Linked DNA regions of Homo sapiens. The protein of the gene in region 4 purifies or fractionates together with the protein of the main gene of each other region. This does not show direct contact. Each region holds a gene or a part of one and is shown on either strand. Other genes may lie near its edges.

The links. The genes of interacting proteins can lie anywhere in the genome.
Region 1: the proteins of GTSE1 (region 4) and SYNRG purify together in Homo sapiens (affinity purification with mass spectrometry; one large-scale study listed by BioGRID and IntAct). This does not show direct contact.
Region 2: the proteins of GTSE1 (region 4) and HIP1R purify together in Homo sapiens (affinity purification with mass spectrometry; one large-scale study listed by BioGRID and IntAct). This does not show direct contact.
Region 3: the proteins of GTSE1 (region 4) and AAK1 purify together in Homo sapiens (affinity purification with mass spectrometry; one large-scale study listed by BioGRID and IntAct). This does not show direct contact.

What each region holds. Positions count from the first base shown.
Region 1 is NC_000017.11:37,602,919-37,606,418, forward strand, and holds part of SYNRG (synergin gamma), read right to left. Parts: intron 1-3,500. UniProt on the Homo sapiens protein: Plays a role in endocytosis and/or membrane trafficking at the trans-Golgi network (TGN). May act by linking the adapter protein complex AP-1 to other proteins. Component of clathrin-coated vesicles.
Region 2 is NC_000012.12:122,834,202-122,838,256, reverse strand, and holds the start of HIP1R (huntingtin-interacting protein 1-related protein), read right to left. Parts: upstream 2,801-4,055; 5' UTR 2,707-2,800; coding exon 2,614-2,706; intron 1-2,613. UniProt on the Homo sapiens protein: Component of clathrin-coated pits and vesicles, that may link the endocytic machinery to the actin cytoskeleton. Binds 3-phosphoinositides (via ENTH domain).
Region 3 is NC_000002.12:69,462,240-69,465,739, forward strand, and holds part of AAK1 (AP2-associated protein kinase 1), read right to left. Parts: coding exon of another isoform or gene 3,186-3,500; 3' UTR 1-3,185.
Region 4 is NC_000022.11:46,327,870-46,331,310, forward strand, and holds the end of GTSE1 (G2 and S phase-expressed protein 1), read left to right. Parts: intron 1-818; coding exon 819-1,020; intron 1,021-1,488; coding exon 1,489-1,698; intron 1,699-2,177; coding exon 2,178-2,261; 3' UTR 2,262-2,941; downstream 2,942-3,441. UniProt on the Homo sapiens protein: May be involved in p53-induced cell cycle arrest in G2/M phase by interfering with microtubule rearrangements that are required to enter mitosis. Overexpression delays G2/M phase progression.

The DNA of each region.
Region 1 (3,500 bases), on a different chromosome or scaffold from region 4:
TAGGCTGAGACATGAGCATTGCTTGAACCCAGGAGGCGGAGGTTGCAGTGAGCTGAGATTGCCCCACTGCACTCCAGCCTGAGCAGACAGAATGACAGAAGGAGACTCTGTCTCAAAACAAAACAAAACAAAACAAAGTAGCAAAAGGGATCTGCTTTGAAAAGGAAGTGGGACTTCTTTCTCTGAGCCTGGAAAGAAAAAGGGACAAATCAAGGAAGACTTCTGAGTGAGAAAGGCTCTTAATCCGGGAGTCAAGGATCTGAAAAGGAGGTTTCTAGATACTCTTTAGAGAATCTAGTGAATGGCTGGGTCTGGTGGCTCACACCTATAATCCCAGCACTTTGGGGGGCCAAAGTGGGAGGATTGCTTGAGCCCATGAGTTTGAGACCAGCCTGGGCAACATAGTGAGACCTCATCTCTCCAAAATAATAATAATAACAACAACAACAACAATAAATAACATAAAAATTATAATGGTGATTCTTTTCCAGAAAGTTTTCAATTTACTGTGTCCAGTTCCATCAAAAGAATCACTATCTATGGGCGTTATAGCCTTAGATATAGCCTTACAATGAATTTCTCAAATAATAAGAGATGAAAGAAGAAATTACTCCTTGATTCATGGAGAATGGATGCCGCTTTAGCAGACATGAGAACATTAACCTTCTCATGCATTGCCATCAGAGCTCTTGGGTGACCAGGCACATTGTCAAGAAGCAGTAACGTTTTCAAAAGAAACTTTTTTCTGAGAAGTAGGTCTCAACAATGGGCTTAAAATACTCAGTAAACCATGCTGTAAACAGATGTGCTGTCACCCAGGCTTTGTGGTTCAATTTATGGACTATAGGCAGAGTAGATTTAGCATACTTTTGAAAAGCCCTGAGATTTTCATAGTGGTCAGTGAGTATTGGTTTAATTTAAAGTTACCTGCTGCATTAGGCCCTAACAAGACAGTCAGCCTGTCCTTTGGTGCCAGACATTGACTTCTCCTCTCTAGCTAGGAAAGTCTTAGATGGCATCTTCACCTGCATTGAAAATCTGGCCAGGTATGGTGGCTCATGCCTGTAATTCCAGCACTTTGGGAGGCCGAGGTGGGTGGATTACCTGAGGTCAGGAGTATGTGACCAGCCTGGCCAACATGGTGAAACCCTATTTCTACTAAAAATATAAAATTAGCCTGGCGTGGTGGTGCGTGCCTGTAATCTCAGCTACTGGGGAGGCTGAGGCAGAAGAACCACTTGAACCCGGGAGGCGAAGGTTACATTGAGGCGAGATCACGCCACTGCACTCCAGCCTGGGTGACAGAGTGAGACTCTGTCTATAAAAAAAAAAAAAAAAGAAAATCTATTGTTTAGCGTAGCCACCTTCATCAATGATCTTAGCTCTTCTGAATAACTTGCTAAAGCTTCTACATCAGCACTTGCTGCTTCACCTTGTACTTTTTTGTTATGGAGATAGCTTCTTTGCTTAAACCTCATAAACTGACCTGTTAGCTTCCAACTTTTCTTCTGCAGCTTCCTCACCTATTTCTCAGCCTTCAGCCTTTACAGAATTGAAGAGACTAAGGATCTTGCTTCAAATTAGGCTTTGGCTTAAGGGAATGTTAAGGGTGGTTTAATCTTCTATCCAGACCACTCACCCTTTTTCAATATCAGCAATAAAGCTGTTTTACTTTCTTAACATTTGTGTTTCCTGGAATAGGACTTTTAATTTCCTTCAAGAACTTTTCCTCTGCATTCACAACTTAGTTAACTGGTGTAAGAGGCCTCGCTTTTGACCTACCTCAGCTTTCAACACTTAATGACTAAGCTTTATCATTTCTAGCTTCGGATTTAAAGGGAGAGATGGGCGACTCTTCCTTTCACTTGAACACTTAGAGGCCACTGTAGGGTTAATCAGCCTAATTTCAATACTGTTATGTCTCAGGGAATATGGAGGCCCTTGGAGAGGAAGACCGGGGAACAGCTGGTAGGTAGAGCAGTCAGACTGCACAAAACATTTATCAATTACGTTTGCTGTCTTATACGAGCTGGGTTTGTGGTGCTCCAAAACAATTACACTAGTAACATCAAAGATCACTGATCACAGATCACCATAACAAATAATAATAATGAAAGAGTTTGAAATATTGTGAGAATTACCAAAATGTGACAGAGACATGAAGTGAACACAGGCTGTGGAAAAATTGCGCGGATAAACTTGCTCAATGCAGAGTTGCCACAAACCTTCAATTTATAAAAAACACTGTATCTGCTAACTGCAATGAGGTATGCCTGTATTCAGTTTTTAAAGACATTACTCATATGCTAAAATTGATACATTCAGGAGCAATGAATACATTTAAGTAATCAAGCTGTCAAGATTTTTAAAAATCAGGCTTAAACATTTAAATTAGTCATATGGCCTAGAGGCTCAAAAGAATTGGAAACTCGTGTATATTTTCTTTCTTCCAGCTTTGCCATAAAGTAACTGTGAAGCTCTGTGCAATCTCCTTTACCCCCTGTCTGGTTTCCCCTCTGTCAAATGAGGACGTAGAATCAAGGCTGCTAAAGTCTCAGCTAAGACAATCACATAGACATGAATACATAAACAGATGTATAAAGGTTACTTTGAAAATGAAATAAAAACAAAATACTGTCAAACATGACTTTCTCTAGTAAGAATTTAGCAAATCGAACTGCTTAGTGACCTATGAAAAATTCATATTTTTCTCTGAAATGTTTAGACAACTAATAACAACATGCTTAAAGATTGGTTAGATAAGCAGTTAAGGCATTAATAAGACAGTAAAAGCTTGGCAAAAAACTGGGCAGGAAGGTGACCAACAATTTAATTTCAAAGGTAAAACCACTAATTCTTATATTACTGACATCTCGGTATGAAAGCAGAGCTCTGTCACTTACCTATCTCATCCGTCCCTCCTTTTCAGTTACCTTTGCTACTAACCTAGATTTGACACTAGGCTTCACTTCTTAGGCCTAAACTCCTACATAAAGACTTCCTAATGGATCTCCCCACCTCCAGACTCTGGTTTCTAATTCATCTGATGCAGCACAAGTGAGAGACATCTTTCTAAATGATGGACCATTACGCAATAATTAAATGGTCCTTTAGCAAGACGCACCCCTGAAGTTAAAACTATGAAATGATTTCCCTGAAACTGAATTTCCTTAGTTTAAACTCAAGGCCCTCTCTAGTTTGGGCACAACTCTACTTTGCAGTTTTATCTCACAAAACTCTTCTCTGCCACTCAGAGCCACAGTCATCTGGCACTGCAGGTACATCGTTTCCTTAGTGTTGACTAGGCCTTCCCATCTCTGTGACGATCTCTTGACCGCTTCCTCTTCCTCTAACTCTGTGGGCCAAATGAAATACCACTTCTTTGCCTTTGATATAGCTGAAATCCACAAATATTTACAGAATGTTTTTTATGTGCAAAAATGTGCTAGAAGCAGTGAAAGAAGAAAAGATGAGGAAGCCCTCTAAAAGCTTGTAAAAGA
Region 2 (4,055 bases), on a different chromosome or scaffold from region 4:
TTATACACACACACCATGCAACAATCACAGGCACCAGCTCCCAGCAGGCACATGATCGCCTCTCTTCACACTCCTGAGCGCTAACCCCACAGATATTTGCAAACAGGGTGTGTCCTGTCAAAAAAGCTCACAGGAAAGCAATTATCTTCCTCCTGACCCAGGAGCCCAGGGGAGGAAAGCGAGGCTGGCAGGCTAGTGAATATTTAAATTCTAAGCCAGCCTAGTGCTCCTGCCACAGCACACAGTGCTGTGGTCAATGCAAGACAAGCAGCGTATTACAAAGGAAGCCAGGTCCCTGGACTGCATGTGCTATTTTCTGTCCCGAAGGAGACATGGAAGTAACAACCTCAGCTCTCCAGGTCCTTTTCCACCACGGGACCTGGCTGGCGGCTCACCTGATTATTTCTGGGAACGATCTAATTAAATATTAACCACGTACAAAACCTCATTCTTACATTCCTCAATAAGTCACTGTGAAGACGAGCAAACCCAGACAATGAACTCAAACTCCAACTTTCCAGAAAATGGGGCCCTAGAATAGGTAAGACCTGTGACATTCACCCATTACAAAGTTATTCATTGTTAGTGGCCCTCTTAGCCTCTGAGAAAAAACCAGAGCAAAACAAAACAAAACAATCCACCTTCGGAGAGGTGCCTGTAATCCCAACATCTCGGGAGGCCGAGGTGAGGCGGGTGGATCGCCTGAGGTCAGGAGTTCGAGACCAGCCTGTCCAACATGGTGAAACACCTTCTCTACTGCAAACACAAAAATTAGCCAGGTGTGGTGGCGCACGCTTGTAGTCCCAGCCACTTGGGAGGCTGAGGCAGGAGAATCACTTGAACCCGGGAGGCGGAGGTTGCAGCGAGCTGAGATCATGCCATTGCACTCCAGCCTGGGCAACGAGAGAGACTCTGTCTTTAAAAAAAAAAAAAAAAAATCCACCTTCTTGTGTATCAAACCAACCACTAAAATGTGTGGTCCTGTATCAGAGATTCTCTCTTTGACACTCAGGAAGGTTGCCCTTGACTTCTTATCATTTAAGAGTAAGATCAATGAAGTTGGTCCTTCACATCCCATCTCCTCCATGTAGCAATCAGACCTCTTTATACGTCCTCAAAGGCACGAGAAAAAACTCAGTGAATAAACAAAGTTTCTGACAACATCCAGATATGTCTGCCAATTCAGGTTTTCTCCCTATGATCTACAAGTTCTTGGCACAATTAATTATGTATTGGTGACTTTAAATTTTTTTAAAATGACGGGCTATCCGGGCTGAACCAGTTGATGGTGATGAAGATCACAAGGCTAAATTGGTAATTTGCAGCCACCTGGGTTCCAGCACTTCGCATTTCTAAAGCCTTGATATCCTCAGGATTTATTATCGCTTTCTGGGTCAATCCCAAGCACAAAGGTTAGAAGGTCTCCCTGCGTTCTCTCTCATTTCAAAACGAAAGCTGTTGTAGAGTGCGTGTGCTAACTAGATGTGAAGGCAACCGCAGAAGTCATAGCTCTCTGCAAGGACAAGTGGGACGGAACTTGCAAATAGCCGCCACAAACGCAAATGTCACCAACCTGCTTTAGACAGGAGTGGGAGGGGTCCTCTGGCTTCCTTTATCTCTAGAGTAAAATTTTTCAGCCATTTCAGTCTTGGTTGACTTATTTTGGCAAATAAACAAGTATGCCCCCCTCCACCGCCCATCCCCCAAGCCTGAGAGCACTTCAAGAGTTTGTAAAATAAAAAGCAACAGGAAACCAGAAACGCAGCAACGTCTGCATCGTGGGTCCCCGGCACAAACACAAGTACAAAACGCACACCCGCGCCCTTATTTCATTTCTAACGCCTTCCCAGGATAGGCATCATCTGGAAGAGTTACAAGCGTGGGAGGCGCAGGAAGGGAGCCCCAGGAAGTTTCTGTCTGTCGGGCGCCGGTATTTAATGAGGGGGTGTGCACCTATTTATACGTGGGCAGCGCTCGGGCAAACAAGTCTGGCGACATACGAGAAGCTTTTCACCCAGCAAATAATAGGAGACTGTGCAGCCCTGGGAAACCGCTCACGAGAGAAGGAAGCTGGGAGTTTAAGGAATTTCCTTTAAGGAAATTGCCCGTGGGGGCATCGGTTTCAGGGGGTAGGAGACGGGGGCAGGAGCCGGCAAGGAGCGGCACGGAAGGTCGGGGACCCCAGTCGGGCCGCGCCGGCCCCGGGAGCACCTGGATCCCCAGCCCCCTCGACCCCCGGCGCGCTGGGCTCGCGCACACCCAACCCCGGCCCCATCTCCGTCCCCCGCCGCCTCAGCTCCGGCGCTCCCGGCCCGCGCACACCCTGACCCCGGCCCCCTCAGCCCCGGCGCCTCTGGGCCCGAGCGCCCGGCGGGAGCGGGGAGCGCGGCTTCCGGTTCACCTGCGCGCCGGTCGGCTCGGGCCGCGGAGGCCGGCGGGGGGCGGCAGCGGAGCTCTCGGAGAGCCCGGGCGGACACAGGCCCTGCCCCCGCGCCGTCCCCCGCCCCTGGCCGGCGCCTCCCGGGCCCCAGCCGTTCGCGCGTGAGGGGTCAGGGACGCCGCTTGCCCGCCCGCCCGCCGCCGCCCGCCGCCCGCCGCCCGCCGCCCGCTCGCCTGGGTCTTGTCGAACTGCTCGCGCTCGGCCTCCAGGCTGTGGCCCGGCCTGCGGCTCAGCACCCGCGCCGGCACGTTCTTGATGCTGTTCATCCTGCCGCCGCCGCCCGCTTTTGTCCGGCTCCGTCCGCGCGACTCACAGCCTCACGGTCCGGCAGCCCCAGCCTAGGCACCGCGAGGCCACCGCGCCGCGCCCGGGCCCGCCCGCCGGGGAGGAGCCCGCCTCGCCCCGCCCCCAACTCCAGGGCACGCCCCTCCCCCGCACACCTCCAAACCCGCCCCCCGCGCCCGCAAACGCCTCGCCCGCCCCCAACTCCAGGGCGCGCCCCTCCACCCGCACACCTCCAACCCCACCCCCCGCGATCTCGGGACACGCGCCTCTCCCCGCACATCCCCAACCCCCCATCCCGCGGCGACCCCGGCACACGCCCCGCCCCCCGCACACCTCCAACCCCCACCTCACTCACAAGGTTGGGGCACAGGCCAAACGCCCCCCCAGCTCCTCCCCACCTCTAATCCCCTCCCTAAACCCGGAGGGGAGGGTAGGGGAAGGGGGAGGGGGAACCCCTCCCTCCTCCTTCCACCCAGGGTAGGGACCCCAGCCAATTCCCTCTCCCCACCCCTCCTCCGAACTCACTAAGTCTTGTCTGCACCAGGGCAAGATCTGGTTAATTGGAGAAAATCTGGCCTCCATGAGTCTGGTCGGTGGCAGCACAGATAGACGCTTTTTTTCCTTTTTGGTCTTAATGTATGTGTCAAAAGGCACACAATGACACTCTCCCCTCTTTGTGCAATTCTGACATAGCTGCAGCTGTTATCCATGCGGGGATGCAGGATGCATTTCCAGAGACGCCGCCGGCTCCGCAACCGGACACCTCGCCAGCTCCAGGGACAATGGGGGCTGAGGCCGGGCGCTGTTAGGCTGGCACAGAAGGCAGGCGGATCTGAACAGCAAAGTACACCGAGGAGATGCCGCCAGGGGTGGCGTGAGGCTTTTTAAAAACATTATTATTGGCTTTCCCTTAAAATTACTGGTCACAAGACTGAAGTAAAAAAATAAATAAAAGCCCAGAGTCCTCTCTAAGCGTAGCTCTCAGATGGGTATTGTGTTTCTGCTGTTTCCCTTTCCTATCGGAATGCAGATGTGGAATCATGCATAAAGGTCCCTTGCTTTTGAAGGGAGAGGCACCGCCTGCCTGTAAGGAGGAAAATGACGCCCACGTAATCCTGACCCTTGTCTCCCTAGTGAGACTGTAACCTGTCTGAGGTCAGAGACCCTTTCCTTTCCTTTCCTTTCCTTTCCTTTCCCTTTCCCTTTCCTTTCCTTCCTCCTTCTTTTCTTTCTTTTCTCTCTTTCTCTCTCTTCTTTCTTTCTCTTTCTTTCTTTCTTTTCTTTTCTTCTCTTTCTTTCTTTTCTTTTTTTTTAACCGAGCTTCACTCTT
Region 3 (3,500 bases), on a different chromosome or scaffold from region 4:
GATAGCATTAGGAGATATACCTAATGCTAAATGACGAGTTAGTGGGTGCAGCACACGAGCATGGCACATGTATACATATGTAACTAACCTGCACATTGTGCACATGTACCCTAAAACTTAAAGTATAATAATAATTTAAAAAAAAAAAAAGAATTTCTGGGCCAGGTGCGGTGGCTCACGCCTGTAATCCTAGCACTTTGGGAAGCCAAGGTGGGTGGATCACAAGGTCAAGAGTTCAAGACCAACCTGGCCAACATGGTGAAACCCCATCTCTACTAAGAATACAAAAATTAGCCAGGCGCGGTGGTGTGTGCCTATAATCCCAGCTACTCGGGAGGCTGAGGCAGAATCGCTTGAACTCGGAAAATGGAGGTTGCAGTGAGCCGAGATCACACCACTGCACTCCCGCCTGAGCGACAGAGCAAGACGCCGTCTTGAAAAAAAAAAAAAAAATTTCTGAGTTGGGGTGAGAAATCTCCCTGAGTATTTCTAGGCTCTTCGCTCATGTTTTTGAGGGCTTCACTTGATAATGACCATGGGAAGAATCTGGGGTGCAAAGTTCCACGTGCATTAGCCGAAATTATTCATTCAACTAGAAAGACAATTTTGCATCCACTAATACATAAAAATCAGAAAGGAGAATTGGGAAAAAGCATATTCTTAGAATAACATTTAGCATCCACCAAAGTGAAGGACATAGGTTTCTGGCACAGTTGAAACCTTAGTTGGAAAACCAAACCTTGGCACAGTGCCAATTATTTATCTTTTGATCAGGACATTTGAAATAGGCAGAGACCACCAAAAAAGGACAAAGTATTGAAAAGTAGCTGCTCATTTTTTACTGCCAATATTCCTGAACTTTAAAGAATATCACACCTAATCAACCGCAATAGAATTGGGCATTCAGACTTGATTCTTAGATGAATTTCCAATAATTTTTAAATCATTGATCTGGCTTGGTAAATAGCTCTCCAAACTTCTACAGCTAATGGAAAAATCACTTAACCTTTACTAGAAGTAACAGAAAGCATTAAAGTTGAAACCTAATGCAGCAGTTCTTTCCAGTGAGTTGAACTGCCTTAGCAGAAATCTTCCCATTGAGATACAGGCTTTATTTTTATTATTATATTTTTGGAGACAGTGTCTCACTCTGTCACCCAGGCTGGACTCACAACTCACTGCAGCCTCAAACTCCTGGGCTCAAGTGATCCTTCCAGCTCAGCCTCCTGAGTAGCTACAGGCATATGTCACCATACCCAGCTAATTTTTTTCATTATTTTATTTAATTTTATTTTTTAGACTCGCTCTGTCGCCCAGGCCAGAGTGCAGTGGCGCAATCTCTGCTCACTGCAACCTCTGCCTCCCGGGTTCAAGCGATTCTCCTGCCTCAGCCTCCTGAGTAGCTGGGACTACAGGTGTGCACCACCACGTCCAGCTAATTTTTTGTATTTTTAGTAGAGATGGGGTTTCACCATGTTGGCCAGGCTGGTCTCAAACTCCTGACCTTGTGATCTGCCCACCTTGGCCTCCCAAAGTGCTGGGATTACAGGTGTGAGCCACCATGCCCAGCCTATTTTTTTATTTATTTTTTGAAGGGACAGGGTCTCGCTGTGTTGCCAGAGTTGGTCTTGAACTTCCTGGGCTCAACTGATCCTCCTGCCTCAGCCTTCCAAAATGCTGGTATTACAGGTGTGTGGCACTGCACCTGGCCAGCTTTATTTTAAGGCACTAATAATAAAGGGTATGAAAAAAGCTAGGAATAAGTCAGATCTTTCCAGAAATAAAAGACAATTTTAAAAAACATCAGTTAACCTGTCTGGCCTATTTCAACATCTAAAGAGGATAGAGAATGTAAAAGTTTTCATGCCTACCTGATTCAGCTCTTTTCCATTCTCCCAAACACTTATTTCCATGTCTCAGATTTACATTTCCTCAAAAGGCAGTAGAGATTTGGAAACAACAACAACAACAACAACAACAACAACAAAACCACCCCAAAACAAGCAAGCCTAGTTTGTAGCCTAGTCTCATGATTAATGAATTCCCTAATGCTGGCATTTAGCCCACATACTGAGAGGCCGGAACTGTAACAAGGTGCTCTTTTCTAGTGTTGTAAGGGGAAAATGTATAAGGAAAATTAATTTTTCATAATCAGGTAAATATAATTTGTTAATAGCAAAACAAGAAATTCCGGAGAGAAAAAAGATTTACTCTGAAACACCAGTTCCAGCAGGATTTCCCTACACCTTCCAACGTATTCTACTTTGCCATGAGAAAAAAACTAAATAAATAAAATGGGGTTCAAGTCAGTTAGGCGAGCAAACACCAAAAAACGAGTGATTTCATTGTGGAGGTAGGCATGATGGGGCAGGATTTCCCTCAAGTGGAAATGCTTCCTGTGCACACACACGTATACATGCACACACAAACCTGTACACTCACACTAATTTCAAAAGCATGGATGTGGGGAAAGCCCTGCCAGCATGACTAGACATGAGGAGTTAGCCCATCTGCCTGTATCTCTACACAGGCTCTGACGTACATTCCACACCCATAGACAGTCATGCACGAGAGCCAGCCTGGCTTGCACACAGACTGAGAATCAGATCTGGAGACTCCTAGAGCTGCTGCTTCTACAGGAATTATTAGTAACTGCAGGATTATACTTCCTGTTGATGTGCAGGGTTTTTATCTTGCTCTTCTTTCCAGACATCTCCCCTTTTCAAGAGTACTAAATCTTGATTTAGTGGAGGGACTAATCTTGATTCTTCGATGGGCATGACTTAGAACAGGAGCTACAGGAATTAAAACTAGCAACAATAGGGCCCCTTTGGGATTGGGGTGAAGAAGTATTTCAGGATTTAAACAGTTTCTGTGGGTGGGGCGGGGGGAAAGCAGAGTTCTTGGTGGAAGTGGATGACCTCTGTGAAGGAGATGAAAATGCCTCCAAGTCCAGAAATCAATATAAACAAACAAACAAACAAACAAAAATGAACATAACTTAAAGGGGCTTCAACTAAATATCACTGCAACTGAGTTTGTTGACTCAAGAAATTCTGCTCTGACGCAGGGAATTGAAATATAAGAACTGATAATATTTCTTCTTCAGAAGGCTAAGCTGGGAGTGCCATGGCGGGTATTGAGGGTGGGATAGAGACAAGAGGCTTGAGGCTCAGGTTTTGCTCCTAGGGTTTCTTGCCTGATTTTGAAGGGAAGGGTGCTAGAGCAAATGGATCAGCAGCTGGCAGCTCCGTAGTCCTGGAGGAAAGGGATGTGATAGAAACAGACCCAGCTATCGACTGCTTGTTGGTTTGTGAAACAATTTTGTAGGCAGCAATGGGCTGGGCTTCTGGACTTGGCTCGTCTTCTGGGCTATAGTGACGGGAATACTTGGATAAGGACTGGGGGCGGAATGGTTTGCCAGCCATGGGGCCTGAGACAGCTTCTTTCTGGAGCTGAGGTCCTTTGTTTCTGTCATTAGAATGACCCCCAGATTCCAG
Region 4 (3,441 bases):
GAGGGAGAGGGAAAGGCATGGAATGCCAAAGAGAAAATGAGAAACAAGGCCTCACTGAAAACACCAGATCTGATATATAAATAGGAATATGTGTTTAACTATCTTGTATGTTTGTAAGTGTAAATGTAGAAACAAAATTCTGCTTGTTTTTGGAATTTTCTTATGAAACCTCTGAAGTATTAAAAAGAAGGTACTGTGTGTTAGTTGATGGACCTGCGGCTTTGCTGGGTTTCCGGAAGGAATTCAGTTTTGCGTGGCAGGTACTCGAGGACCTGTGGGCAGCAGGCAAGCCCAGCAGCGCCCGTGCAGGGTCCTGTGGGAGACGCCATTGGAAAGCTGGTGTGGGCAGCCTGTACCTGGGGCCTCAGCCCTGATCAGGGCACTGGGCAGCAGGGGAGGGGGCATCTGGGGCAGAAGGAGCCAGCTGCATACCCACCTAGGCCTAGGAGAAGCCCCCCACTAGCTGCATGCGAGGAGGAGCTGGCCGTGGCTCAAGGAGGGGTCCCTGTGTGTGGTCTGGGCTCCCTTCAGGAGGTGACGGGCGTGCGCATTACCTTGTGTTTAGTAACTAGAAAGGAAGGGGCTAACATCAGCCCCTGGTGATGCTGGACAGCTAAGATTTGTGAGCTGAGAGGAACTGGAGAGATCACTGAGCCCCTTCCATACACAGGAAACTGGGGGTCTGGAGGGTGAAGGCCCTAGAGCCGGGACGCACTCCACCCAGGACACTGTTCCTCCAGAGTGACTTGCTTCCCACATCAGCCAAGTGAACGAGCATTTTAGAGACATTTTCTCATAAGTTTTTTTCCTTCCCACAGAACTGAACCAACAAGGGAGAGCAACAGAAAGACAGATTCCAGGCTGGTGGATGTGTCCCCTGACAGGGGTTCTCCTCCTTCCCGTGTGCCTCAGGCACTTAACTTTTCTCCAGAGGAAAGCGATTCTACTTTCTCCAAAAGTACTGCCACAGAAGTAGCTCGGGAGGAAGCCAAGCCGGGTGGAGATGCAGCCCCTAGTGAGGTGGGCAGAACGGGCGCAGCTGGGTTCTGTTAGCTGAGATTCCTGGAGGCTGCTCGGGAAGCCCGTGGAACCCAGGGCTGTGGCTGGCGGAGTTCCCTGCCATGCTTCATCCTGGGGCCAGTGCCTCCGTGCCAAGCAACCCAAAGGGAGGCAGTCAGGACTTCCAGGCCTCCAGGGGAGAAAGCCCTGCATTTGACTAAGGCAAGGGTCAGGGATCAAAGCTGAGGAAGCGGGAAGCAGGGTGGCAGGAGCTGGTGGCTGCTGGTGAGCGGGTATGGACAGGGAGGTGGGCAACAGTCAGAGAGGCACGGCCCACCCCATACAGAGCCTCCTTCCACCAAGGCCCCGCCTGATTCCTTGGCTTTCCAAACCGCCAGCCCACCTGGAACATGAGCAAAGCTCACATTCTCCCAAGATGGTTGCCAGAAAGATGCTGGACTCTGCTCTTAACCTTGGTTTTGTACCCAGGCTCTTCTTGTAGATATCAAACTGGAACCACTCGCGGTCACTCCAGATGCTGCAAGCCAGCCCCTCATTGACCTTCCTCTCATCGACTTCTGCGATACCCCAGAAGCACACGTGGCTGTAGGATCTGAAAGCAGGCCTCTGATCGACCTCATGACAAACACTCCAGACATGAATAAAAATGTGGCCAAACCTTCACCGGTGGTGGGACAGGTGAGAAGTGGCAGGTGGTTCATGTTGACTCAGCCCTGGGTGTCCTCAGTTCTGGGATTGTTCATCCTCCCAGGGCCATCGTGGGACCCTTGAGAGTGGCTGTTGAGTCTTCTCAGCTACACACCTCAGGGCAGGATGCACCTTTGGCAGCCTGAGCTTCTCAAAGATCAGCTGCCTCTGAGGTGCCCTGCCAGGACCCTGCCAGCTCTTGTTGGACAGGGACCGCCTCTCTCCTGCCCATAGACCCCAGGGCCAGATGTGGGACAGAGGAATGTGCATGGTGGGGGCCTGGGCTTCTCCGTGTGTGTCCTGTCTCCTTCCAGCTTCTTAGACGTGGTGGCCCAGAGTGCTTTTCAGTGCACCCGAGCCAGGATGAGCGAGTGGCTGTGATGACCCACGCAGCCAGTCCTCTGTGCAGGGAGGGGAAGGGAGGCCCTAGCCGGATCCACGCTCACCTCCTCCACTCTGCTCTCTTCCAGCTCATAGACCTGAGCTCCCCTCTGATCCAGCTGAGCCCTGAGGCTGACAAGGAGAACGTGGATTCCCCACTCCTCAAGTTCTAAGCCGAACCAAATCCTTTGCCTTGAAAGAACAGCCCTAAAGTGGTTTTCAACCCTCAGAAACAAGCTTTAGGCTGGTCGCAGTGGCTTACACTTGTAACCCTAGAACTTGGGAGGCTGAGGTGGGCGGATTACTTGAGCCCAGGAGTTCGGGACCAGCCTGGGAAATATAGTGAAACTCCTGTCCCTACAAAAAATACAAAAATTAGCCGGGTGTGGTAGTGCATGCCTGTAGTCCCAGCTACTTGGGAGGCTGAAGTGGGAGGATGGCCTGAGCTCAAGGAGATGCAGGCTGCAGTGGGCTGTGATTGTGCCACTGCACTCCAGCCTGGGCACCAATGTGAGAACCTGTCTTGGAAAAAAAAAAAAAGAAACATGTTTTAGTAGAAGTTTTATTTGAAAAAGAAAAATAAGCATAAATATATTCCCAGTGCTGGAGAGGGTGGGCTGAGGGACTGGGGCCAGCACGGACCACCCAAGGCCTCTGCTTCCCGCCGCCACCCTCCTCGCTGCCATTCTCTGGGCTGGAATGTGAAGCCTCAGTCACTCTAAATGAAGAATTTTCTTTTGAATGTTTTGTATGTAAAATAGCAAGTGGCTATTTTTAAAGTTAAGTTTGTATAAATAGTTAGATATTCTAGATTTACATTAAATTGTAAAATAAATGGACTTATTGAAGCATATCTTGATTTTTAAGCTTATCTTGATTTTCAAACATGCATAGCTATTTTTATCACTCTAATCAGTAAGGCTACTATCTAGACTCGAATGCTTTCATACAAGTGATTTTCAAAAATTAGTCAATAAAAATTGATGTCAGTGCAGGCCCAGGCCCGCCCCCAGATACACTAGTTTCTAGGTCTGGGGCCAGCCTAGTAATTGTTACTAGGCACACAGGTGATGCTGACTCGATGGCCTGAGACACACCCCTTGAGAAGAAGCTGCTCTGGGGAGACGAGGGTATGAGTGGAAAGAGGATGGGCGAGGAGGCCGGGCTTACCTGGACACTAAGGTGATGGACGGCGTCTGCTGGGCAGGCCTCGGGGAGGACCCCTCAGCTTTGCTCTCAGCAGGGGCCCGACAAGCTCAGTGGGCAGTGGCAGGAACTGAGTGCCACTGGAAAGCCCATTCCCTTTATTTAGAAAACGAGCTCCAGGAAGCCGCTACTTTGTGTCCATTTCTC